Regions from separate parts of the Homo sapiens genome. Here all the other regions are linked to region 1. The links come from fine-mapping of genetic effects on gene expression. A gene starts in region 1. Each other region holds a variant in brackets. All regions are shown on one strand. Distances are between the middles of the regions.

Evidence for each region.
Region 2: its variant is fine-mapped to the expression of SLC9A3-AS1 in lung (TOPMed, PIP 0.95).
Region 3: its variant is fine-mapped to the expression of SLC9A3-AS1 in regulatory T cells (Bossini-Castillo 2019, PIP 0.95).
Region 4: its variant is fine-mapped to the expression of SLC9A3-AS1 in whole blood (TOPMed, PIP above 0.99).
Region 5: its variant is fine-mapped to the expression of SLC9A3-AS1 in whole blood (TOPMed, PIP above 0.99).
Region 6: its variant is fine-mapped to the expression of SLC9A3-AS1 in minor salivary gland (GTEx, PIP above 0.99).

Annotation. Positions count from the first base shown.
Region 1 is chr5:471,455-475,538 of GRCh38, forward strand. SLC9A3-AS1 (SLC9A3 antisense RNA 1) reads left to right here and starts at 1,782. Exons shown (of 7, transcript NR_125375.1): 1 at 1,782-1,945; 2 at 3,683-3,865. It overlaps SLC9A3 (solute carrier family 9 member A3), which reads right to left. Exons shown (of 17, transcript NM_004174.4): 16 at 3,429-3,678; 17 at 1-1,928. The coding sequence ends at 1,925. It overlaps SLC9A3-OT1 (SLC9A3 3' UTR overlapping transcript 1), which reads right to left and starts at 1,511. Exons shown (of 2, transcript NR_024158.1): 1 at 1,225-1,511; 2 at 1-511. RefSeq lists enhancers at 463-1,105, 1,106-1,746, 3,674-4,084 and silencers at 990-1,119, 1,480-1,549, 1,670-2,489.
Region 2 is chr5:516,247-520,330 of GRCh38, forward strand. All of the region lies in intron 1 of SLC9A3 (solute carrier family 9 member A3), which reads right to left. Among named protein-coding and RNA genes, the nearest start is that of SLC9A3, 6.2 kb to the right of the region's middle. The variant C/T (reference allele first, on the strand shown) is at 2,073.
Region 3 is chr5:410,621-414,704 of GRCh38, forward strand. It overlaps AHRR (aryl hydrocarbon receptor repressor), which reads left to right. Exons shown (of 11, transcript NM_001377236.1): 5 at 2,724-2,813. It overlaps PDCD6-AHRR (PDCD6-AHRR readthrough (NMD candidate)), which reads left to right. Exons shown (of 13, transcript NR_165163.2): 7 at 2,724-2,813. Among named protein-coding and RNA genes, the nearest start is that of EXOC3-AS1, 30 kb to the right of the region's middle. RefSeq lists enhancers at 123-292, 541-710, 1,292-1,461, 2,719-3,219, 2,967-3,566 and 2 more and a cis regulatory region at 1,377. The variant C/T (reference allele first, on the strand shown) is at 1,959.
Region 4 is chr5:351,914-355,997 of GRCh38, forward strand. AHRR (aryl hydrocarbon receptor repressor) reads left to right here. Exons shown (of 11, transcript NM_001377236.1): 3 at 1,817-1,998. It overlaps PDCD6-AHRR (PDCD6-AHRR readthrough (NMD candidate)), which reads left to right. Exons shown (of 13, transcript NR_165163.2): 5 at 1,817-1,998. Among named protein-coding and RNA genes, the nearest start is that of AHRR, 32 kb to the left of the region's middle. The variant C/T (reference allele first, on the strand shown) is at 2,513.
Region 5 is chr5:503,674-507,757 of GRCh38, forward strand. The region is part of intron 1 of SLC9A3 (solute carrier family 9 member A3); the gene reads right to left. Among named protein-coding and RNA genes, the nearest start is that of SLC9A3, 19 kb to the right of the region's middle. The variant G/A (reference allele first, on the strand shown) is at 2,507.
Region 6 is chr5:436,212-440,295 of GRCh38, forward strand. AHRR (aryl hydrocarbon receptor repressor) reads left to right here. Exons shown (of 11, transcript NM_001377236.1): 11 at 1-2,074. It overlaps PDCD6-AHRR (PDCD6-AHRR readthrough (NMD candidate)), which reads left to right. Exons shown (of 13, transcript NR_165163.2): 13 at 1-2,074. Among named protein-coding and RNA genes, the nearest start is that of EXOC3-AS1, 4.9 kb to the right of the region's middle. The variant T/C (reference allele first, on the strand shown) is at 2,238.

The DNA.
Region 1 (4,084 bases):
TCTGGCCACCCGGAAACCTCCCAGCAGTTCAGATGGGACAAACTGGGGGCCTGTCAGAACAGCCACTTGTGCCGGGAAGGCCAGGCCCCGGCCTGCTCCGATGAACGTCAGGACGGTGGCTGCAGCAGGGAACCAGGGCTGGCCTTGGATCTGTCCAGTAGGGTCACTGACTGGGCAGGGCTTGCTGCATAGAGGATGGCTGCATTTTGTGCTCAGAGTTGGTTGAAATGGCTACGAAGTGTGGAGAATAACCACTGAATCCCAAAAAGTCACTGCGCTTGATCTGATCCAAGTAACAGTGACTGCAGTTAGGGTCGAGAGCTTCTCCGAAGCAGCGGTCATGCAGGCTTTTGTGTGGCTGACGCTTCCCTTTTTCACAACAGTAAAAAGCTATCAATGGGAAATTGTGGACTTTTCCCACCAGGGACTCAATGGGGACTCAATGTGCAATATTCAGTCAACATAAAACTCTTTAAGAACTCCTCCTGACTGGTGACTGTCAACACTTGATCTGAAACGTGAATAGTTTAATTTTCCTGAGCAAGGAGCTGCGAGTCTAGCTTTAGAAAAGCCCCTAGGAGTGTCCACCTCCACCACTTCCACCGTGCAGGCAGGTTTCAGGTGGGTTGGACCCTGTGGGACTTGCCGTCTGAGGGATGGATGGACTCCGAGCACCCTCCCCGGCTCAGCACCCGCGGCCTCCGCCCACTCAATGGACTGTGCCTCCCAGAGCTTGGGCTGGATGGTCTCCCTGCAGAGGACCAGGAGCTCTGTCCAAGGCCTCGCCCTGGGACGCTGGAAGGGGTGGGAAGGGTCAGGGGTCCGGGGTCTAGGACAGGCTCAGGGGTCTCAGCAGGTTCTCCTTGGAGGGCCTGAGCCTGGTAGGGGGGCGGTGCCCTGGGCCCCTCCATGCCCCCTGGTTTGTTAAGGGGGACAGAGCAGCTGCTGGGCCCCACCATCCACTTAAGGACTGGCCGTGATTCTTGGCAAGCTCCGCCCGCCAGGCCACCTCTCACCCAGCCAGGGCACCCCGGGCGACCTCCGCGCCAGGTGCGACAGCTCAGGCCGGAGACCTCGTCTGTGGGGACGGGCCGTGTCCGGGGCCGCCACCCTGAGACCGGGCGCGGGCAGGACGGAACCTGGGGGGGAAACGGGGCAGGTACTGGCTTTAGGAGTCTAAATCCCCAAACGCTGAGCAGACGGAAGACGTTCCTGCCACTTTACCTGCAGTTCAAAGACCTGGCGAGGGCCTGGAAACGGCGCTCGGCCCAGGCCGCTTGCGGGCGCTGGGCCTGCAGCCGCTGCAGGTCGGGCCCTGAGTCCTGGCGCTCGGGAGGTCCCTGAGTCGGTCCCCGAGTCAGTCCCCGGGCGCGGGGCTCGGTTGGGGGGGCCCGGAACCTTGGGCTGGTTTCACGCAAATCCGTTTGGGGCGAGCCTCGGTTTCCCGGCAGCGGTGGGAAAGGGCGCGAGCGGCCAGCCATGGCGCGCGGACCCTTCCCGCCGGCGGCGTCACAGCGGCGTCTCCTCCTGCTCCAGCGCGTGCGGCGGTGCGTGGCACGAGGGCGGCAGCGACGCCAGCTTCAGCAGCGCGGGGCGGCGGCGCGCGCGAGGCCGCTGGAACGAGCGCCGGCTGTGCACGCGGCGCGCCGCCGCCGAACGCGCGTGCGCACTCGGCAGCCCTCGGCGCTCCGGCCCCGCCCCCGGCGCAGGCCCCGCCCCCGGCTCGCCCTCGGGCGGCTCTGCGGGCGCAGGCGCGGCACTCTCGGAGTTCTGCGCAGGCGCTGGCGTGGGCGAGGCGGGGCTCGGGGCTCGCGGTCGCTGTAGCCGCGCGGGGATCTGGGGTTTCTCTGGGACAGCGGCGGCGGCGGTGGGCGGACCGTGGCGCGGGGACGAGCGGCCGGTTAGCGGCGTGTCGGAGCCGGTGTCACCTGCGGGAGAGGAAGGCGTGAGCGGCGCGCGGAGCCCGGGCGCTGGGGCGGGAGGGGCGTCCCCGGGGGCCTCAGCTGTCCCCGAGCCCGGCGGCTCTCGCCTCCCCTCCCGCGGCGCACCCCAGGCTCGGCGTCCGCTGGGGCCTCCTCCCAGGACCCGGGTTCGCGGGGCAGAGGCGGAAGCAGCAACAGCGAAGCCCCAGCCCGGCCCCGCCACGTCCCCCCGCCGGGGGTCCCGGGACAGCGGCCTCCTCGGCGCAGGAAGGTCCCGCCCCAGGCCCTGCAGCGCGGGAGGTCAAGGTCCCCAAGGGGACCTGCTTCCTCCATCTCAAACCGCCCTGGCGTCCCCCGGGTGCCTCCCAGGCCCCCAGAGGGAGCTCAGAAAGCCCAGACCCCACGGCCCGCCCCTCTCCCTGCTCTGAGCTGGAGGCAGAGTCCGGGTCTGCGGGGCCGGCCCTCCCTGTATCCCTGTGAGAGGGTCGGGGACCCGGGGCGTCTGTCTGGCTTCCCCCAGCCCTGCTCTCAGCTCCCTGGGAGCGCAGGATTTGGACTCGCGGACTAGCTTTCGGAGCCACCTAAAGGAAATCTCAGGCGGCCCTAGTGCCCTCAGCTCCGTGGGAGCAGCAGAGACGCCAGAGTATCTCTGTCCGGGCTCCTGAGGGAGGTGCGGCCAGCAGGGCGCTAGAGGAGGAAGAGGGGCTGCTGGAGAGAGAGAGCGCGCCAGGTTCAGGTCCAGGGAGGAGAGAGAGCGAGCGCGCGAGGCGGAGACCTGGAGGGAGAGGAGCTGCGGAGAGGGGTTAGGCGGGGAGGGAGAGAGAGAACCAGGTTCCGGTCCAGGGAGGAGAGAGACAGCGCGCGCGAGGCGGAGACCTGGAGGAGAGGAGCTGCGGAGAGGGGTTAGGCGGGGAGAGAGAGAGAGCGAGCCAGGTTCAGGTCCAGGGAGGAGAGAGACAGCGCGCGCGAGGCGGAGACCTGGAGGGAGAGGAGCTGCGGAGAGGGGTTAGGCGGGGAGGGAGAGAGAGAACCAGGTTCAGGTCCAGGGAGGAGAGAGACAGCGCGCGCGAGGCGGAGACCTGGAGGAGAGGAGCTGCGGAGAGGGGTTAGGCGGGGAGAGAGAGAGAGCGAGCCAGGTTCAGGTCCAGGGAGGAGAGAGACAGCGCGCGCGAGGCGGAGACCTGGAGGGAGAGGAGCTGCGGAGAGGGGTTAGGCGGGGAGGGAGAGAGCCAGGTTCAGGTCCAGGGAGGAGAGAGACAGCGCGCGCGAGGCGGAGACCTGGAGGGAGAGGAGCTGCGGAGAGGGGTTAGGCGGGGAGAGAGAGAGCGAGCCAGGTTCAGGTCCAGGGAGGAGAGAGACAGCGCGCGCGAGGCGGAGACCTGGAGGGAGAGGAGCTGCGGAGAGGGGTTAGGCGGGGAGGGAGAGAGACAGCGCGCGCGAGGCGGAGACCTGGAGGGAGAGGAGCTGCGGAGAGGGGTTAGGCGGCGGGAGGCCCGGGAGCGTTACATGTGTGTGGACTCGGGGAGGGCGGCGGGGGGCCGCTCCTCGGGGCCGTCTGCCTGCAGGAAGGAGTCCACGGACTTGCTGCTGAGGCGGAAGGGCATCAGGCGGCAGAAGGTGCCGGGAGAGTAGGGAATCTGCGTGCGGGCCCTCTGCGAGGGGACCACCGTCTCCCCGGGAGACAGCCAGGGCGGCAGCCTGGCCAGGAGGCTGCGGTCCAGGGCCTCGTCCGGAGAAAACACAGGGTTGTCAATTCCTAGGAGAGAGGGCAGCGGCTAGTCAGCCTTCGGAGAGCCCCACGGCGGCAGGGGAGACCTCGCCGGGGCCGTCACCTGCTGGGTGCCTTGGAAAGTTAGGGTCACCGGGAAGGTTAGGGTCACGTGCCTTTCAGGTTGCGGGCCCTTCCCCCACATCCATGACCCCACACGCCACAGGCAGCACAGGTAACGTCTCGCTTCCCTCAAGACATACCCCACCTGCTCCCTGCCCGGCCCACGTCTCCCCGGACAGCAGCCTCCGAGTTGGTTGAGGGGGCACTCAGTGGGTGCCAAGCAGGGCCCTTGAGAACCCACAGGAGACCCCACCCCCCCAGGTCCCAGTGCCCCTGGTCCAATGACCGAGCTCCCTCCTGGGGCGGCAGGAGCCACCCCTCCCTTAGCCAC
Region 2 (4,084 bases), 45 kb after region 1:
CTCATTTGAAGTGGGATCCCCACTGCCTACAGGGCGTGATGGGCACTGAATGTTTATTGAATGAATATTAAACTGGAGAGAGCTCCTCCATTGCCCAGAGCGCTGGCTGCTGCAAAGTCCAGCATTTTGGGCTACCTCGATAAGACGGATGAGACCATTCAAGCTCCTAAAAGTGGTTGGTATGCTAAGGGTATTGGCTGCCTGTGACCCGAGTTCTATTCTGTGTCCCAGGAGGGTGCCAGGTTGGGCAGTTCCAGCACCAAGTCAGGGCCTGCCCAGGGTGTGTCTGCATCTTCCGAGGTCTGGCAACATCAGGATGGGGCTGGGTTTGTCTGTCTTATTCCAGAAGGCATATAGCTAAGGCATAGCTAAGATTTCAGCTGACAGTGGAGCATGTTTTAGGCCAGGTGAGCGTGGTTTCTCTCTGGGCACATGACCCACTCCTGAGAGAGCTCTGTGTGGGGCAGATGGTGCTCACCATGCTGAGCCCAGATCTGCCAAAGTGCTCTGAGCCGATGCTGCAATTGCTTGTCAATGATCCCACTTTGCAGGTTAAGTCTGCCACTCCTTGGCAGGCGGCGCCTCTAAAGCCATTGTCATCCAGAAGTAGGTGTGCTGCTCACTGGAGGCTCTGCAGTAATTTAAGGAAATAATTCAGCCGAGGAGCTGAGACAGCCTCTTCCTGGGCCCAGTGTCCAGATGGTTTTGGATGAAGCTTACACATGGGAAGCCAATGTTTATCCCTCCACTCCTTCACTCTCCCATGTGTGCATTCATCCATCCATTTGTCCATCCACTCATTCGTTCATTCCTCCTTCACCCACCTGTGGGTGCATCCATCCATCCACTCATCCATCCATCCATCCATCCACATATCTACCCATCCTTCCGCCCATCCCTCCATTTACTCATCCATTCACCCATCCACTCACTCATCCATCCATCAATCCACTCATCCATCCACCAACCATTCACGCATCAGCCATCCATCCATCTGTCCATTCACTCACTCACTCATTCATCCATCCATTCACTCATCCACCTATCCACTCATCCATATATCCATTCATTCACTCATCCATCCATGAGTTCACTCACCCACCCATCCATCAATCCACTCATCCATCCATCCATTCACTTATCCATATATCCATTCATTCATCCATCCATCCATCAATCCACCCATCCAACTATTCACTCATCCATTCATCCAAGCCATCTATCCATCCACTCATCCATCCATCAGTCCACTCATCCATCCAGCTATCCATTCACTCATCCATCCATCAATCCACTCATCCATCCATTCACCCATCCATCCATTCACCCATCCACCTATCCATCCATCCACTCACTCACCCATCTATCAATCCACTCATCCATCTATCCATTCACTCATTCATATATCCATTCATTCATCCATCTATCCATCCATCCATCCATCCACCCATCCATCCATTCACCCAAGCCATCCAGCCATCCACCCATCCATCCATTCACCCATCCATCCATCCATCCACCCATCCATCCACTCGTCCATTCACCGAAACCATCCATCCATCCAAACCATCCATCCATCCATCCATCCATCCACTCATCCACCCATCTGACCATTCACTCATCCATCCATCCATCCACTTATCCATCCATCCACCCATCATCCATCCATCCATCCATTCACTCCATTCATCCATTCGCTCATCCACCCTTCCATCCATTTACTCATCCATTCATCCATTCATCAATCCACGCATCCATCCATCTATCTATTCACTCATCCATCCATCCATCCACATGTCCATTCACGTGCTCAGATCTGCAGGACTCTGCTGGGGACAGGCACTGGGGACACAGGAGGAATAAGACAGACAACCTCTGCCATTGTGGCATCAACCTGGTTGAGCCAAAAGACCTTGGAGGAGGAGGTGTCCTCAGGAGCTCAGAGGAGGAAGGCTCCGAGCTCAGGAAAGGTGGAGCAGGAGAGATGCTGAGTGTGAAGGGATGAAGCTGGGGTGAGTGCATGATTTGGGGGAGGGTGGAGTCTGGCATCCCAGGACCTGGTACCCTGAGAC[C/T]TGGCACCCTGAGACCTGATACCCTGAGATCTAGCACCCTGAGATATGGCACTTCGCGACCGGGCACCCTGAGGCCTGGCACTTGGAGATCTGGCATCCTGAGACCTGGCACCCTGAGACCTGGTACCCCAACACCTGGTACCCAGAAACCTGGCACGCCAACACCTGGCACCCTGACACCTGGTATCCTGAGACTCTTGTCTCAAGGGTGGGTGAGGAAAGCCTTGGTGGCTTCATCGTGCACTGAGACTCCTGGTTGTGGGACTCAGCCCAGACGCTGGGCAGATGATGTGCAGGATGGGAACCCCAACTCTAAACATGCCCCAGTGCAGCCCCTGGCTCCTGGAGAAGCCGGCAGTGGGGGTGGCCACGCTGGGAGAGCTCAGCCATTTCTGCAGTAGACATGAGGCTGGTTGGGTGCTGGAGCTTGGGCCCAGACAGGCATCTTAACAAGCCTGTGTGGTCACAGGGAGCGCCACACACGCCCAGAGGCGGGGAGCTCCTGGGGTGGCAGGGAGTGGGCTGGGGGGGCTGGCGGCCAAGAGTGACTCACCATCCCTGTCTCTCTCTCAGCCTCTGGCGGAGCTGCCAGGTACCCACAGGGAGCCCTGGTGGTTCCTTCCCTGCCCCGATGCTATCAGCACTTCCCAACCTTTGCCCCTTTCCTCAGGATTCTCCCGGGCGACACCTTAGCTCCAAACGCCATGGATTGTTTTATAGCCTACAGCTGATTCTCCGTGGGCAGCTCCTGGAAAATGAAACTTCACCCCTTCAGGGCCAGACCCTCCCCTGTGGAGACTCCTGGGAGAGTCTTTGCTTCCAGGCCTCCCGTGATGGCTCCTGACTCCAAACCCACTGAGCATACCTCTCCTGCCAGGACTGGGGTCCACAGGGCCCACTCACTGGTCCTCTCCTGGGAGGACTGGGTCCCCTGGGGACTTTGCTGACCACCCTGGCCTTCTAGGCCATCCTTGTCCCCAGAACCTCCTTTCCTATGCTTCTTCAAGGAGAACCTAAGGGCAGTTCAGCTGGAGTGGGTAGCAGATATGGTGAAGGGGTAGGTGCTGTGCGCATTGAGGGATTCCTGCCTCCAGGACCAGAGCACATGCAATAAAACCATTCACCCCAGGAGGTGAAGGTGACCCACAGCTGCCCTCACAGCCTGGGCACTGAGTGCCCGGTGGAAGGCTGCACCTGGGAGAAATCCACAGCTTAGGCAGGTGGTCTAGGCAGTGTCACACCCCCAGTGGCGGAGGCTCCCTGGGACACGCTGGGTAAGACAGCGGGGGTCCGGGAGTCAAGTGTCGGGTGAGGACGACCTCCTGCACCCACCCAGACAACAAGGAAGCACCCAGTGCCTCAGATTTGGGGCCGGGAGCAGGGAACCTGGCGCTCAGGGATCTGGGTCTTGACCCTGTCCAGTTAAGGAGGAGGTGCTGGAACCCCAAGGCTGAAGCTCCTGCAGAAAAGCATTCCCACACTCCCACAGTGGGGGTAACGCCGCTCAGAGGGGGGTGGGGGGGCTGCGCCGCTCAGAGCAGGGGGCTGCACTCCTGACCCTGTGCCCTAGCGTCCTCCTGACCCTCCTACGGCTGCGCGAGGCACTGCAGACTCCAGATACCCGTCTCGCTCCTGCCTGCCCTTCCAGCCAGGGTTCACCAAGATGTGGGGCGGCCTGGGCCTCCGCCATCACATCCCTCAGCAACACAAGCTCCACTTCGAGAGCCTGCCCCCACCGCCCCCACCCAGCCCCACTGTCCTGGTTTCCCCGTGGGCAGTCACTGCCGCTGCTCAGGTCCTAACCCTCAAGGCGCCACCTCCCTGAGCCAGCGCTGCCCAGCTCTGGAGTTCAGGCCCCATGGGATGTCAGCTCCCACACCTCCTGTGCGTCCACGACCCAAGGGGTACCCACGGCCAGACGCCTGGGGACAAATAGACCCAGCTGGGCCTAGAATCCACTCCCGGCCCCAGCCCCTCCCCGGTTTCCGACATCTCAAAATTGTAACTCCCCC
Region 3 (4,084 bases), 61 kb before region 1:
CCTAACTACATTGAGCCTTTCAATCCAGGAACACTGTGTATCTCTCAGTTTATTCAGGTATTTTCTCAGTGATGTTGCTTTGTTTTCAATATACCAGTCGTGCACATCTTTTATTAGATTTATTCCTAGGTATTTTATGTTTTTTGATTGGAGCCTGGAGTTTTCTTTGTAGGAAAGTTTTGATTAGAAATTCAATTTATTTAGTATAAGGTTATTTAGATTTTCTAGTTCTTCTTATATCACTTTTGTTAATTTGCATATTTCAAGGAATTTTCCTGTTTCACTTAAATTGTTTAATGTATTGACTATCACTTTTAGTATTTTCTTATTATCCTTTTAATATTTGTAGGACCTGTAGTGATGTACTTTTAAACTCCTGGTGTCAGTGATTTGTTTTTTTTTTCTTGATGAGTCTTGCTAGCAGATTATCCGTTTTATTAATCTTTTCAAAATTTTCAAAAATTCAAATTTTGACTCTGTTAATGGCCTTTATTATTTGACTGTTCTAAACCATTTTCATGGATTTTTGACTCTTACCTTTATTTTTTCTTTCCTTTTACTTACCTTAGATTTAACTGACTCTTCTCTCTCCAGTTTCTTGAGGAGGGACTACATACATACTTTTGAAACAGTCATTTTAAGCTCACTGGCATTTGATGCTGACCCTTCTGCTTGTGTGTAATTGGAGGTTTATTACACTTCCTGTGTCCTCATTATGATGCAATTTTGGGTCTGTGTAGCTGCACCTGTTCTTACCATTCTCCGTCATTTTGTGGAATGTTGTGGGGGATTTGGATTTAGGTAACTGCCATTATCCTTGGCTGCCTAGGAGTCTTCAATACCAGTATTTCAAAAGCTCTTAGAAATTGATACTTATAAACCCTAATAGAAAAATTAGCACATGACATACATAGGGCAGTTTTCCAAAGAAGAAATACAAGTTACCAGTGAATGCAGGAAATGTTTTTCAATGTCATTAGTAATCAAAGAAATGAAAACTATAATGGTAAAATAATTTATCTCTTTTCAGAAATAATATATCTGTTTTCAAATTGGCAAAGATTTCAAAAAAAGAAAAAAGGAAAATAAAAGTACCCAGCATGGTCCAGATTTAAGGGAAATTAGTATATAGTATACTGCTGACAGCCACAAACATCATGGGAGTTAAAGTCTCCGAATGTCTGTGTTTTAAAGACACAAATGGAAACATTTATGAAAGCTGTGTCCAGGTGACTCAGCCCCCTCACCCCCAGCTTCTACCTCGTGTGGGATGTGAGACTGGGCGAGATATTCCACCTGGTAGCCTGTGCTTGCTCAGCGTCAGTGGCCATTGCTGCCATGGACAGATCCTGCGACTCAGAGGCCACCGTCTTTCGCGCATCCTCACCGGTGATGGCCCCGGGAAGCTGCTGCAGGGTGGGGCTGCGAGGCTCGCTGCTCAAATAAAGGAAAACGCCACATCAAGCACAACACAGCCACATCCTTGCCTTCTCCATCTGCTCCCTCCAAAATCCCACGATGATTACGGCTGTGACTAGGATTTAATAATCATGCAAATATTGTGAATAACATACACGAATGAATTTAACATCAAGATGAAATGAATTTCTAGAAAATATTTTAAGATGCCATAGTTAATGTAAAAAAAATAAATAACTTGCACACACGAACAATAAATAAATCAACATAGTATTAAAATCTGCCCTGTTTCATCCACCATCTCCACAAAATGTGCCCGCACTAGAGGGTCTTCAGGGTGAGGCGGACCAGGCCTTCCAGAAGCACGTCACCCTCATCTTAAGCAGCTCCAGAAAATGGAAGGAAAGGAGCAGGAGTGACTCGTGTCTTGATGGTTGTGTATACTGTATGCAAAATATGGAGAGAAACTACAGGCCAAGTTTAAACATAGATGGTTAAGTGAGGTTAATCAATTCCAAGGCATATTAAAAAGTCATGAT[C/T]AAAGGGGCTTACCACATGAAGTACAAGAATGATGCATCATCAGAAAATCTATCAATCACACACTAAAGAAAAACTGTGATTCTTTCAGCAGATACAGAAAAACACTTGATGAGTTCAACATTTTTCTCTCTCTCTCTTTTTTTTTTTTTTTTTTTTTCTGAGACAGAGTCTCACTCCATTGCATAGGCTGGAGGGCAGTGGTGCGACCTCGGCTCGCTGCAACCTCCACCTCCTGGGTTCAAGCGATTCTCCTGCCTCAGCCTTCCAAGTAGCTGGGACTACAGTCGCACACCACCACACCCGGCTAATTTTTGTATTTTTAGTAGAGACAGGGTTTCACCATGTTAGCCAGGCTGGTCAATGGACTTCAATATTTTTCATAATAAAAATCCTTAGAAAAGCCAAAGGATATCCCAGACAGTGTGTAGGAGGAGGTACGTGGGCAGAAACGTCTGCAGAGGAAAACAGAGAGCTCCTGCCTCGTCTTAGGTACCAAGTCTCACTGTCGCGTCAAGACAAGGTGCACATAATTTTATATTTATTAGAAAAGGGGCCTTGTAAACCATGGCTGCCTTCTCATGTTGCCTGTTAACTTGGAGCCTGTGACAAAATGGTAATAAATAAAAAGTGGGCATTTCTAGAGGTTATGAATATGGACTACAAAACAGGAGGAAATTGTTGAAAATTTAAGCAAAGGATTCTTGCACTTTTTCATTTTGGGTGAGCCAATTCGATTTTTTTTTTTGTTTTGTTTTTTCTTCTAGTCTCTTAATGGCTTTGCTCTGGTCGTGAGTGCAGAAGGGACGATATTTTATGCATCAGCAACGATCGTGGACTATCTGGGCTTCCATCAGGTAAATGAAACCAGAATAGCCCTCCAGTCTGTTAAGTGCTATGTTGTCTTCCCTTTGTAAATGTTTGTTGTCGTCAAGGTTTGATAATGTGTAAAATCAGGCTTTTCCTATCACTGAGCTCTTATCAGATAAAGATCTCCACACCCCAGCTTTGTCTAGGGCAGTGTTTCTTCCAGCCTGGGTTCGGGGTCTCGGCAAGAGGCTTCTCAGTGTTAGGGGTGTTCTGGTCTAAGGCAGCCGTGGCGTGCGGACGGCAGCATGGTCTCCTCTGGCTCAGGCACTCCGCTAGGTCCCCTGCCCCACCAGCACCATCCCATTCAGCCGCTCCCAGGCAACGTCTTAAGCCTCAGCTTCTTGGTGCACTCAGGACACAGCTTGTTGTGGAAATGCCCTTCCTGACGTGCGAGTGGTTCATTTGGAATGCTGCCCAGCCAGCCCCAGGTGGATGACTCCAGACTTCCAGGCAGAGAATGGGGTTGAGGCCTCGTCAGATACCAAGCCCTGGAAGGGCAACTCACCCGGGAAAAGGTGCAATAAAAAATCCCACCCAGCCGGGCGCGGTGGCTCACGCCTGTAATCCCAGCACTTTGGGAGGCCGAGGCGGGTGGATCACGAGGTCAGGAGATTGAGACCAGGCTGGCCAACATGGTGAAACCCTGTCTCTACTAAAAATACAAAAATTAGCTGGGTGTGGTGGCGTGCACCCGTAGTCCCAGCTACTAGGGAGGCTGAGGCAGGAGAATAGCGTGAACCTGGGAGGTGTAGGTTGCAGTGAGGTGAGATCGAGTCACTGCACTCCAGCCTGGGTGACAGAGCGAGACTCCATCTCAAAAATAAAAATAAAAAATAAAAAAATCCCACTCAAGGCCAGGAGGGGAGCAACGGAGCTGTTTTTTTTGTCTGGGGAGGAGCTGGGGTCCCTCATGGAAAATCAGATGCTGGTTGTAGAATTAAGATTTCTCCCATTGCACGGCGAGGACCCCCAGGATCTGGAAATCAGGCGTACTGCAGACTGATAGATTTCTGGAGAACCCAAAGAAGCAAAAATGGGGCCCTTTATCTGCACTTCCACAAGCCACTCCCACAAAAATACCCGCCCTGCAAATGAGCTCACAATGCAAGTTATAAACCCAAGGAAGCCATAGATGGTGAGCAGGAGCCAGCTGACAGGTAAACAAACCGTGCTTCCTGGAAGAACTTAAGGAGCAAAGCCGTCCAAAGGAAACTGGCAAACAAATAGATTTAAAACAATAAAAGATAACAGCAGCAAT
Region 4 (4,084 bases), 120 kb before region 1:
CCTTAGAAAAATAAGGAACTTCTTGACAAAAGAGACCCAAACCCCTGGAAACAGCAGGCTCACTCCTGTATGTGCCAAGGTCCCAGGAAGGGTTAGTGTGGAAAGTCAGGTGGCCTCGTTCCTGTGGTCCTGCCAGTAACTGGCCCCTGCTCAGTCTCCCCATGCATTCCCAGTGGACTCCATACTGGCTGCCATCTTTTCTTTCGCATGATTGCATGTGGAAATGATATCTAGAACGAGATGGCAGTTGAAGTGGCTTCAGTGCAGTGATGGTTAAATAGGTCAGCTGTAGGGGACAGTCACTGTGAGGTTAAATGGGTTAGCCGTAGGGGATGGTCACTCTGAGGTTAAATAGGTCAGCTGTAGGGGACGGTCACTGTGAGGTTAAATGGGTCAGCTGTAGGGGATGGTCACTCTGAGGTTAAATGGGTCAGCTGTAGGGGACGGTCACTGTGAGGTTAAATGGGTCAGCTGTAGGGGATGGTCACTCTGAGGTTAAATGGGTCAGCTGTAGGGGATGGTCACTGTGAGGTTAAATGGGTCAGCTGTAGGGGATGGTCACTCTGAGGTTAAATAGGTCAGCTGTAGGGGATGGTCACTGTGAGGTTAAATGGGTCAGCTGTAGGGGATGGTCACTCTGAGGTTAAATAGGTCAGCTGTAGGGGATGGTCACTCTGAGTTTAAATGGGTCAGCTGTAGGGGATGGTCACTCTGAGGTTAAATAGGTCAGCTGTAGGGGACGGTCACTGTGAGGTTAAATGGGTCAGCTGTAGGGGATGGTCACTGTGAGGTTAAATGGGTCAGCTGTAGGGGATGGTCACTGTGAGGTTAAATGGGTCAGCTGTAGGGGATGGTCACTGTGAGGTTAAATGGGTCAGCCGTAGGGGATGGTCACTCTGAGGTTAAATGGGTCAGCCGTAGGGGACGGTCACTGTGAGGTTAAATGGGTCAGCTGTAGGGGATGGTCACTGTGAGGTTAAATGGGTCAGCCGTAGGGGACGGTCACTCTGAGGTTAAATGGGTCAGCTGTAGGGGATGGTCACTCTGAGGTGAGAGGGTCACGCCAAGCTCCTGTCATTTTAAGGTAGGTTGGGTGAGAGGGGTCAGCTCCCTCCCTCTCTGGGCTCTGTGGTGTGGAAGCCCCACAGGTGGCCCCTTTTTGTGGGTAGAGCAGGCCTGCTCTGGCTTATTAGGAGAATTGGGTGATGGCCCTCACTGCCCCTTTGTGGGGCCCCAGAGTGGCAGGCACCTGGTCTCATTTGCCCTGGGTACTCTCCCCTCAGCCCCAGCATGTACAGGAGAAACCAAGCTCGGAGCGGCCTTGGGCACGGCCCGGCTGATGCCAGGAGGACCTTTTCATGTTTCCTGGAATGTGTTAGGTTTTGTTTAGACACCGAGGAGTCCCCTAAGGATGCTGAATGAATGTGGCATTTTCTATGCTCACTCCTGCCCCGCCAGCCTGGGGCCAGGCGTCCTCCTCCCTCCTCAGGGATCCGTAGTGGAGAGGTGGAGAAATGTGCCTGTCCCGCAGCTGGGGGCCGTGCCCTGTCTCCGTGCTCTGAGCTGCGGTTCTCCGGCTGGTTTGCTTCTTCTCTCTACATCCCCTCCAGATACTGAGCTGTGCTTGGCTGTTGTGCGCTGTGGTTTTTAGTGTCTATGTCTTGAGGCATGGGTGAGCTTTAGTCCTCTTCCCGTCTTTTGTCCTGGCAGCAGCGTAGATGCTCCTAGTAAGGTCACTGCAGAGGACGGTTTCCGCCCCAGGGGGCCTGTGGCTTCTGGTGGAGAAGCCCACCTGACCCAGACCATCTCCCCACAGGAGGCCCGCCGTGGGGGCAGAGAAGTCCAACCCCTCCAAGCGACACCGGGACCGCCTCAACGCCGAGTTGGACCACCTGGCCAGCCTGCTGCCGTTCCCGCCTGACATCATCTCCAAGCTGGACAAGCTTTCTGTCCTGCGCCTCAGTGTCAGTTACCTCCGGGTGAAGAGCTTCTTCCAAGGTAGGACTCTCACCTGCTCCCACCTGTTCACTTGAGTCAGGCTGTGTCTCCCCTGAGTCCATCTGGGGCCTTGTGGCCAGGTGAAGTGTGTCTGGTGGGTTGCACCATGTGCACTCCCTTCTTCCCCCACGCTGCCCCCAGAACCTGGAGACTTGGCCCCTGGATGGGAGCTGGCTGGGCTGTGGATTTTCCCTGGGGCCAGGTCTGGCCCTAGCTGTCCTCGACACTCTCAGGGTGGGGGCCTCACCTCAGTTTGCTGGGATGGGCCAGTTTGCGCCTGGGGTCCTGGGTTTGCTGAAGCTGCGCAGCTGCTGAGGGAGGGGCTGGGGCTGTTCCTCCCCGTGCTGGGCCTCACTGGGGCTTCCCCACAGACCCCGGCTCCAGGGAATGAGGGATCGGCTTTGTGGATGAGCAGGGCTGGGCATGGTCAGGAGGCTGAGGCAGCTGACTAGGTGGGACCCGGGGGCTGCCCTGGGGTGCCGGGCGCCTCCCCCTGCCCACGCCAGGCCGTGCC[C/T]GGACACAGCTGCTGGGGCTGCCCTCTCGTGGGGAGGGGCTTCTGGGGCTCCTGCATCTCAGGTGGGGCCTCCCCAGGCCTGTGCCCTGTCTGTCCTTGGAAGCATGGCGTTTCCTTAGATTTCAGGTTATTGCTGCCCTGGGAGCTGGGATCGCTCCAGAGAACTCGCAGGTGTAGACCGTGGGGCCTTTGCTGTTGCGGGAGGGTGGGAGAGAAGCTGCTTTCAGCTTCTGTGTTGGGTGACGTGCCTGCACGTGGTTTGATTGCAGCACTTTTAGAATTAAAAACCCCGTGACCAGCAGCATGTGGCAGTTGTGCCCGGTGCCTGCACTCCTGAGTTTGAGTCAGGGTGGGGGCCTCCCCTGGGCGGGGGGCGTCTGTCTCAGGGTGCAAGAGGCTGTCAGTGCCTGGGCCCCTGCAGACCTCTGCGCACCCTCAGACACCCCCAGGGAAGGACGTGGCCCATGGGCTGCGGGAAGGAAAGTCACGGTGATGCCCAGCATCACGCGCCGTGTCCTGCCAGTGCCGGCCCCACACTGAGGGTCTTCCCCGGGTCCCGGCTGGCCGCAGCCTCCATGGAAATCAAATCCCACAAAATGTTAACAGAGCTTATCTGAGTGGTGAGGTCACAGCAAGTTTTAGTTTTACATTCCAGGTTTTCTAATTTTATGTTGAAAACTATTAATTTTATATTTATCTCTGTTCCCAGCCTGGGCCTCCTGGTGCCCAGGGCTGCTGGGTGGTGTTGGACTCAGTTTACCTGAGAGACCTGGGGTTTGCCGTATGTGCAGGATGGCAGCTTTTCCAGGAGGGTTAAGATGTGGTGCAGTTGGTGTGGTCTGGTGTGGTGGAGTGGGCACCACCCTGCATGCACCTGGGCATGGGCACCAGCATGGAATTGAGGGCAGGCTCCCAGGTTTGCCTTCTGGGACACGCCTTTCATGGATGGCGCAGTGCGGCTCAGCAGCGCCAATGGCAGAGGGCAGTCCCCGTGTCTGGACAGCGCAGGAAGGGCTGGGGCAGCCGGCAGGGAGGCTTTGTCCCGAGCTGAAGACCTGTCACATCGGCTTCCTCCCACCGACACCGCACAGCCTCACCCTCTCGCTGGGAGGTTGGAGGAGAGGCCAGGTCATTTCCTCTCCGCACAGGTCCCACTGTGTCCAGCCAGGCCAGGGCTTGACGGCCTCAGAAAGTCTTCGATTCTGGTGTTTCCAGCAAGTTTGGACACCTGGCTCTTCTTAAACTGCCAGCGAGTGAGCTTCCCATCCTGCTGCCTGCCCCAAGCCGGGGCAATGGCACTGGATGGCCATCCTGTGCAGGGGCACCCTGCGTGCCTCCTGCTGCCCTGCTGGGAGGTGCCCACCTCTGCCGCAGCTGCAGTGACTCTCAGGGGCCACCGGCTTACGAGAGTGCTGCAGCTTTCAGGAATAAACTTCCTGATTTTTCTACCAAGGATTGTGAATTTTGTGATCCCCTTCAGGCTGTACATTTTAGAGGAAATTCTAAAAACTTTTCTGAAGTCATTTCCACGTATAATTAGAAACAAGTCAAGCTATAAAAGTTAGATCTTAA
Region 5 (4,084 bases), 32 kb after region 1:
GCAAGTACAGGGAAAATCCTGCCTGTGGGCACGGCACAGTCAGACTGCTGAAAATCAAAAACAAATGGAGAATCTTTCCATCTGTATAATGTGTGTGAGTTACCAATAAAGAACTTTCTTCTTGTTCCATGAAATGGGCAAGGAAGGCGTGTCTGCTGGAAATCTCATCCACGGCTGTGGTTTCTCCTGAATCGGCGAATCGTCTGCGCGAGGCTGGGGCCTCTGGACAGAAGACTGGGCCCCCAGAGCTCTTGGGGGGTTCCCATCTTCACCCGGTGCCTGGATTCTCAGGGTCCCACCCACCCCCACCTTCCTCACACTTCACCCTCTCTTCTCTCTTGCCCTTATAAAATCATTCACTTCAAAGTAGAAATTATGAAACCGTCTTCATCAATCACGGAAGTTTAGCATTCCCCGTGTTTTTGCCTTTGGTTTATCAACAACTAAACAAGGGAAGGGAACAAGCTTCTGCAGAAGCTTCCAGCAAGGAGACAGCGTCCTATATGAGGCGCCTGGGGAGGGAAGGTGCCGGAAGGCATCGCTGTGGGGCTGCCGCCAGCTCCGGAACCCCCGGGAACCCAAGGGGCACACGTCTCCCCGTGTTCTTGCAGCCCCCGCGTCCCGTGACCCACCCAGGAGGTGTGACCTGCCCTCCTTGCTTCAGGCTCCCCTCTGTAAAGTGAGGAAATAGCCCCCCGGGGCTGCAGCCAGGGCCCAGGGCGGTGGACATGCAGGGTCCAGGACTGGCTGAACCTTGAGCCGCTGCAGGGGCCGTTGGATTTGGCCCTCGGGAGAGAACTCCACAGCCTCCTCCAGTGTGTCCGGCGGCGGCAGCCAGGGAGGGTGCCGGGACCTTCAGACCACACAGCAAGCGGCCAGATCTCAGGCTCCCCGGGCTCACGGCCCCGCTGCCTCCTCCTGTCACCCCCGGGTGAGCCCAGAGGGCTCGGGGTGGGGACAGCAGACAAACCCTCAGCTGCTGGGCAGTGCCTCCCTCTGGGGCCATGGGCACCGGGACCTGCACCCCTCAGCGCTGTGAGGCCACTGTCTCTAAACGTGGGGGCTGAAGGGGAAGGGGTGTTCGTGCCCAGCTCCTGGCCGGCCACCGACATGGCCCCTTCATGGGGGCCGGGCCAGAGGCTCAGAAGGGGAGGGCAGGGGTGCGGCTGGTTGAGTGGCATACAGCGGGGGCTCACACCTCGGCTAGCAAAGTGGCTCCCAGACCCGGACGCCTGTGCCTGGAAGAGCAGCAGACGCCTGCAGGGCACAGTGGCCACGTGGGCGCCACACAGAGCCCAGTGCTGAGAAGCAGGGGCCAGCAGCTGCCACCCCTCCCCTGCTTTCCCTGTGCAAATGGGAAAAGGCCTCAGAACAGCGTGGACGCAGTGACCCCTTTAACAGAATGAGGGGATGGAATCCCGGGTGGCTGGAGACCTGGACAAATGAGAAACAGCATCCTCCTCCATTTTTAGCTTCAGAGGCTCTTAAGGGAGGGAGGCTGCTGTGGGAGGAGCATCTGGATGTGTGCTGGGGGGTGACCATCGAGGGGGGTGGGGGAGAGTGACCATGGGGGGGGGAGAGTGACTGTGGGGGGGTGGGGAGTGACCACGGGGTGAAGAGTGACTGTAGGAGGGTGGGGAGTGACCACGGAGAGGGGAGAGTGACTGTAGGGGGGTGGGGAGTGACCATGGAAGGGGGAGAGTGACTGTTGGGGGGTGGGGAGTGACCGCGGGGTGAAGAGTGACTGTAGGAGGGTGGGGAGTGACCATGGAAGGGGGAGAGTGACTGTTGGGGGGTGGAGAGTGACCACAGAGGGGAGAGTGACTGTGGGGGGGTGGGGAGTGACCACGGGGGGAGAGTGACTGGGGGGGTGGGGTGGGGAGTGACCACGGAGGTGAGAGTGACTGTGGGGGGGTGGGGAGTGACCATGGAAGGGGGAGAGTGACTGTGGGGGGTGGAGAGTGACCACAGAGGGGAGAGTGACTGTGGGGGGGTGGGGAGTGACCACGGGGGGAGAGTGACTGGGGGGTGGGGTGGAGAGTGACCACGGAGAGGGGAGAGTGACTGTGGGGGGGTGGGGAGTGACCAAGGTGGGGAGAGTGGCTGTGGGGGGTGGGTGGGGAGTGACCATGTGGGGGGAGAGTGACCATTGTGGGGGTGGGGAAAGTGGCCATGTTGGGAGGGGAGTGACTACCACGGAGATGAAATTAATGTGAACCACTGAGGCAAAGGCATGAGGCCCCCTCACTTTGGGGTGGGGTTAGGGTTGGGGTGCAGGTGGAGCCTCTGAAAGGCTTTGAGGAGTTTGCAAATGCCCTGCAGGGGAGCAACTTCAGGTCTCGCTGACCTTTATCCCTCAGGAGAGGATCTCCAGTGAGGCTGTGCTCTCCGGGAATTCTTTTGTGCAGGTAGACGGTGAGGGCAGCTTCCCAAGCCTGTTAACTGCACCTGTGCCTGCTCACGTGGCCACAGCCGCCACTATCAAGGAGCTCTGGGTCCTGCCCGC[G/A]AAGCCAGGACTTTGTCACGAGCTTTGCCCGGACGCAGCAGCCGGAAGCGGTTGGGAGGATTGATTCTTGATATTGATGCCACCCAGAGAGGACAAAGGTGGAAAGACACACGAAAGGGGCCCGAGACGGGGGCTGGAGACGCGCGGAACCCGGGCTGCGGAGAGGGTGCTGGGGTGCGCGGCAGGGCCAGGGCAGCCCGCACAGGGCGCATTCTCACGCGAGGTGTGCCCCGTGTCTCCATCATTTGCCCCAAATGCAGGAGGGCCCGGGGTCCTCCCGAGGGGCCCCATGCTGCTCCCTGTCCTGTGGGGCCACCCTGCCAAGCGGGGCACCACTCCAGAGCTGGGACAGCAGCAAACCAGAGCCAGACCCCACAGGTTCCCCACCTTCTGGGCGCTGCTCCCAGGGACCTGTCTGGCCACTTCCCAGCAGGCTGTTTTAACCCGTGCAGAGCTGGTTTCCTATGATAATCTCGACTTTTCTGGGCAGTTGTAAAGACTGAAAATCAGACTCCTTCAGAGAGAGTGGGTTGACTTTGTTCTCAAACCCAAGGAAAACGAAGGATAAAACGTGTTATTTATTATCCTTGTTTTAAAGTTATTGGGGGCCGGGCGCGGTGGCTCACGCCTGTAATCTCAGCACTTTGGGAGGCCAAGGTGGGTGGATCACAAGGTCATGAGATCGAGACCAGCCTGGCCAATATGGAGAAACAAAACAAAAAAAAAATACAAAATACAAAAATTAGCCAGGAGTGGTGGCAGACACCTGTAGTCCCAGCTACTCGGGAGGCTGAGGCAGGAGAATCGCTTGAACCCGGGAGGTGGAGATTGTGGTGAGCCGAGATCGAGATTGGGCCACTGCACTCCAGCCTGGGAGACAGAGTGATACTGTCTCAAAAAATAAATAAATAAATAAATAAATAAATAAATAAATAAATAAATAAAGTTATTGGGTCAGGTAAGAAGGAGGGATCCGGCTGCTGCTTCTTTTTTTTTTTTTTTTTTTTGAGACGGAGTCTGGCTCTGTTGCCCAGGCTGGAGTGCGGTGGCGCGATCTGGGCTCACTGCAAGCTCCGCTCCCGGGTTCACGCCATTCTCCTGCCTCAGCCTCCCGAGTAGCTGGGACTACAGGCGCCCGCCACCACGCCCAGCTAATTTTTTGTATTTTTAGTAGAGACGGGGTTTCACCGTTTTTTTTTTCTTAAATAGTGTCTAGCTCTGTTGCCCAGGCGAGCACCACCAGGCCTGGCTAATTTTACTATTTTTTGTAGAGATTTTTTTCACCATGTTGCCCATGCTGGTCTAAAACTCTTGGGCTCATGTGATCCTCCAGCCGCGGCTTCCCAAAGTGCTGGGATTACAGGTGTGAGCCACCGCGCCCATTCTGGGGGGATCCAAAGACACTGGCACCCCATCCTCAACCCCCAACACCCCAATCCCTGCCCCACAGACGCCCGAATCCCCACCCCACAGTCGACACCCGAATCCCCACAGACGCCCGAATCCCCACCCCGCAGACGCCCGAATCTCCACCCCGCAGACGCCCGAATCCCCACCCCACAGACGCCCGAATCCCCA
Region 6 (4,084 bases), 35 kb before region 1:
TGTGCCTCCCGTGTGGACGCCCTCTCTGTTGTTGGCCCGCGGGTGAGGGACCCACCACCCCTAGGGACCCACCACCCCGCCGCACTGTGCATTCTGCCTCCTGTGTGGACGCCCTCTCTGTTGTCAGTGGCTTTGAGGTGTCAGTGCTTACTTAGATGCTGGTTTAATGCTGGACCCATTTGTTAAACGCACCTTCACTTTGTCAAAACCCAGGTTTGGTTGGCAGGACTGGGTCTTCTGCCCAATGCCAGGTGCCTGCGCCTCTCAGTGGCCTGGTTCTTGGACAGTTTGCCCCCATGTGGCAGGGATAGGGATAAGGATCTCCTCTCAGTACTGGAAGAGAACAGCCAACCATCTGAGCCCAGAGTCACAGATCCATCGTGGCCCCCTATGACCCCCAAGCCCTACCGAGGGGGCACTCACTCTCTGCTTAGCCAGGGGGCGTCTTTCAAAAGGTGACCTCCATGCTGTGCTGTCGTGGGTGTGAGACGTGCTCATGGCCTTCCACTGCCATCTCTCCCTTATCTGATGCCTAAAGTCACGATGGGGACAGAGCTACCCAGGGGCCAGCCATGGGGTGACCAGCCACCTGAGGGTCAGTCACCTGTGGAGAGCAGGCACCTGTGAAGACCAGGCACCTGAGGACTGGCGCCTACTTCCCACTTTGGCCCTACACTGGCACAGAGCCCCTCTTTATTCATTTCTCATGCTGAGCATGGCACACTTCTGGCCTCTGGGCATTTATGGATTTAAGACCAGGATGGTATTTCAGAAGCTTCCCACTTCCTTCCTATTCTAACCGAGTGCCCAGCTCCTTTGCTGATCATGGAAAGACCCTTAATAATTAGGCCTGCAGGCCAGGCGCAGTGGCTCATGCCTATAATCCCAGCACTTTAGGAGGTCAAGGTAGGAGGATCGCTTAAGCCCAGGAGTTCAAGACCAGCCTGGGCAACACAGGAAGAATGTGTCTCTACAAAAAATAATTAAAAATCAGATCTGCTGTATCCCTGAAAAAGTCTCAATCAACATGCATGTTCCACTCTTGGAGTTCCCTGTTCTGAGGGCCAGCCACGTCCTGTGTCCTGGAGCTTAGCCCTCAGCAGCTCCCTTCAGCCTGGGCGCCGCCTGGGTCCCAAACGTGGCAGCTGCTCTTCCAGTCTCGGGGCCGAGGAGGGCAGGGAGCTCAGTGACTGAGAGTCTTGTGTATCACATGTCTTGAGTGTCCTGGAGCCAACGGCTGTCACTGGGAAAAACACCAGGCCCCAAAGATCGAATCAGAGACGTGGCTGCGTGTTTGCGATTGTAGCCAGGCCCTTCAGTGTCATCAAAGGAGCACTGGGGCCTCCTTAAGCACAGACGGCAGCCCCTGCCCAGGAGGCTTCTTCACCACGTCCTGCCCTGCAGCCTCCCAGACCTTTAGATGCGCCCCTGCCCAAGGCCCTCCTGGTGACAGGTGCCAGATTGAGTGGTGGGTTGCTGCCAGGCAGGCCACGCTGTGTTGACGCTGCACTCAGCACGTGGGTGTTGGCTCTGCCGGTTTTGTGGTGTGGGGACCCTACAGGAGGCTGCGGCCCTGAGAGCCTGGGATCAGCGAGGTGTCCGACATCCCTTCCTCAACGGCAACAAAAACTCCCCAAGTCAGCACTTTGGTTATTTTATAGCCACAACCCTCTTGGAAAACAGTGGGGAAGACTATGGAACATAGAAAGTGTGGATGTATCACTTCTCTCTAAAATGTCATTGTTAGCACTAATTACAGGTTCATGTTTTTCTGTGTATGTAGCTTTTCCCTATATAGCTGAAAAAGTATTAAAGTCAAATATAAGGTGGGAATGGGATGGAAGGGAGGAGATCAATACAACTTATATTTTTGCAGTTTCTACTGGAAGAAAAAAGTTTTCAATACCTAGACCAACTTGTTGAATTTTTAAAACTTATGCACTATAAATGCAACTTTCTCTACTGCTTTCTCAGTGCCTTTAGGAAGCTTTCAAATTTTTTTGTACTGTGGTTTGTATTAAATTTGCAATATTGATGTAAAATACATGACATGCTAGTACATGTTTAACAAAAATTTAAATGTTTGCGGAAGTCTGCGTGATTTTCCAAAGTCACTTTATTTCCTTTAAAGAGTGTGCTGGTTAATCTACATTCTAAGACAGCCTTTCACCACTAAATATAAGGCAGCAATAAAAATAAAAACTCTAGAGCCGCAAGCCTCGTGAAGGAGGAGAAAA[T/C]GCCTGCCATCTCCCTGCTCCTGACCAGTGGCATCTAGAGAGGGCCTAGGCCCCCCTCCCCTGTCACTGAGGGTCAGGGCCCCTCCTGGGTGCTCTCAGGACGTCCCAGACCTGACCCGTCCTGTAAGAAGTGAGGAGGGTAGAGCTGAGGGCACTGTGGGTCCGGGGCCATGCGGGGTCCACCCTGCCTGGCACAGGGCCTGCACGACAAGCCCATGGGAAGGGGGAAGGGCCCAGGCAGATTACGGCCAGACCCCTCAATGCCATCGAAAAAAGTGCTGGGGTCTCCTTAAGCACAAACGGCAGTCCAAGGCCCAGGGAGCTGCGCTTTTGTTTCCTTTCAGGCATCTTTAGAGCCTGCGCAGCCCCTGCCAGGCCTCCTTCGCACCCTGCAGCCCATCAGCAAACCCGTCCTGGTCACTCGTGTAAGACTCCCGTGTCCTCCCCCAGGACCAGGCCAGCCCTCCCATCTGTGGCCCCACAACTTGACCCACCCTGCCCCCCATGCCCTCTCCTCTGTGGCCTCAGGCAGATGGAGTTCCCGCATTTTCACTCCTCACCCCCAGTCTGGCTTCTGCTGAGTGTGCCTGTGTGGAGTTGGAACGCATACAATTCTTTTTTCTTTTCTTTTCTTTTTTTTTCCTGAGATGGAGTCTCACTCTGCTGCCTAGGCTGGAGTGCAGTGGTGCAGTCTCGGCTCACTGCAGCCTCCACTTCTCAGGTTTAAGTGATTCTCCCACCTCAGCCTCCAGAGTAGCTGGGACTACAGGCATCCACCACCACGCCCAGCTAATTTTTGTATTTTTAGTAGAGACTGGGTTTCACCTTGTTGGCCTGGCTGGTCTAAAACTCCTGGCCTCACATGATCAGCCTACCTCGGCCTCCCAAAATGCTGGAATTACAGATGTGAGCCACCACGCCCAGCTGGACGCACACAATTTCATCTCACCAGGCGCTGCCCAGCGTCCTCCAGAGGGGCTGCACCCACTTGGCCTCCCTTCTACCAGCCACACCTCCTGGGCTCCCATCCTCACCCCACACTGGCACCTGTGTGGACAGACTTTTTCAGTCTTGGGCTTCTGAAGGGATGAAACGGCAGCTGTTTTATGTGCATTTTGTTTATTCATTCGGCATATTTTTAGTCCTTGTTGAGTATCAGGCCCTGCACCAGTGCTGGGGACGCATTCAGGAGAAAACGATGCAGACATCAGTGCTGTCCCAGAGCTGGCGTCTGAACATGTGTGATGTGCGGTGTGTGCGTGTGCAGGGGGAAGGGGTGCAGGCAGCTGAACGTGACCATGAGAACCCCGTAAACTCTGCGGGGCATGGAGGGGACCGGTGCTTTGCAGGTGCACAGAGCTGGGGCTGGGGGTGGCCCAGGTCTTTGGGGGCAGTTTTATGCAGGACGTATGGACGGCTGGAGCTGAATAGCGAGTGGGGGAGGCTGCATGGCCGCAGTGAGGTCTGGCTGACAATAGAGCAGGGCCTGGGTCATGGCTCATGGTCTGGTCAGGTCAACGGACACCCTAGTCATGGCTCAGAGGCTTCAGCAGGGCCCCGTGGGGAGGGTGTGGGGACAAGGTCTCCCTGAAGGCCGAGGGAAGCAGCTTATTCCCCGGAGCCAGTGGCTCTTGTCCTTTACCCGTTTCTTGCTGCACTTGTTTGCCCTTTTAGATCAATTTGCAGGAGTTCTGTTTTTATTCTGGATAGCAATTTTCTTGTCAGTTACAGATGCTGACAATGTTTTCCCTCAGTCTGTGGCTTGGCTTTTCACTTAAGGATTTAAAAATTATATCCCACAAGAGTTTAAGATTTTAATATAGCAACTTTTCTATTTTATTCTTTAT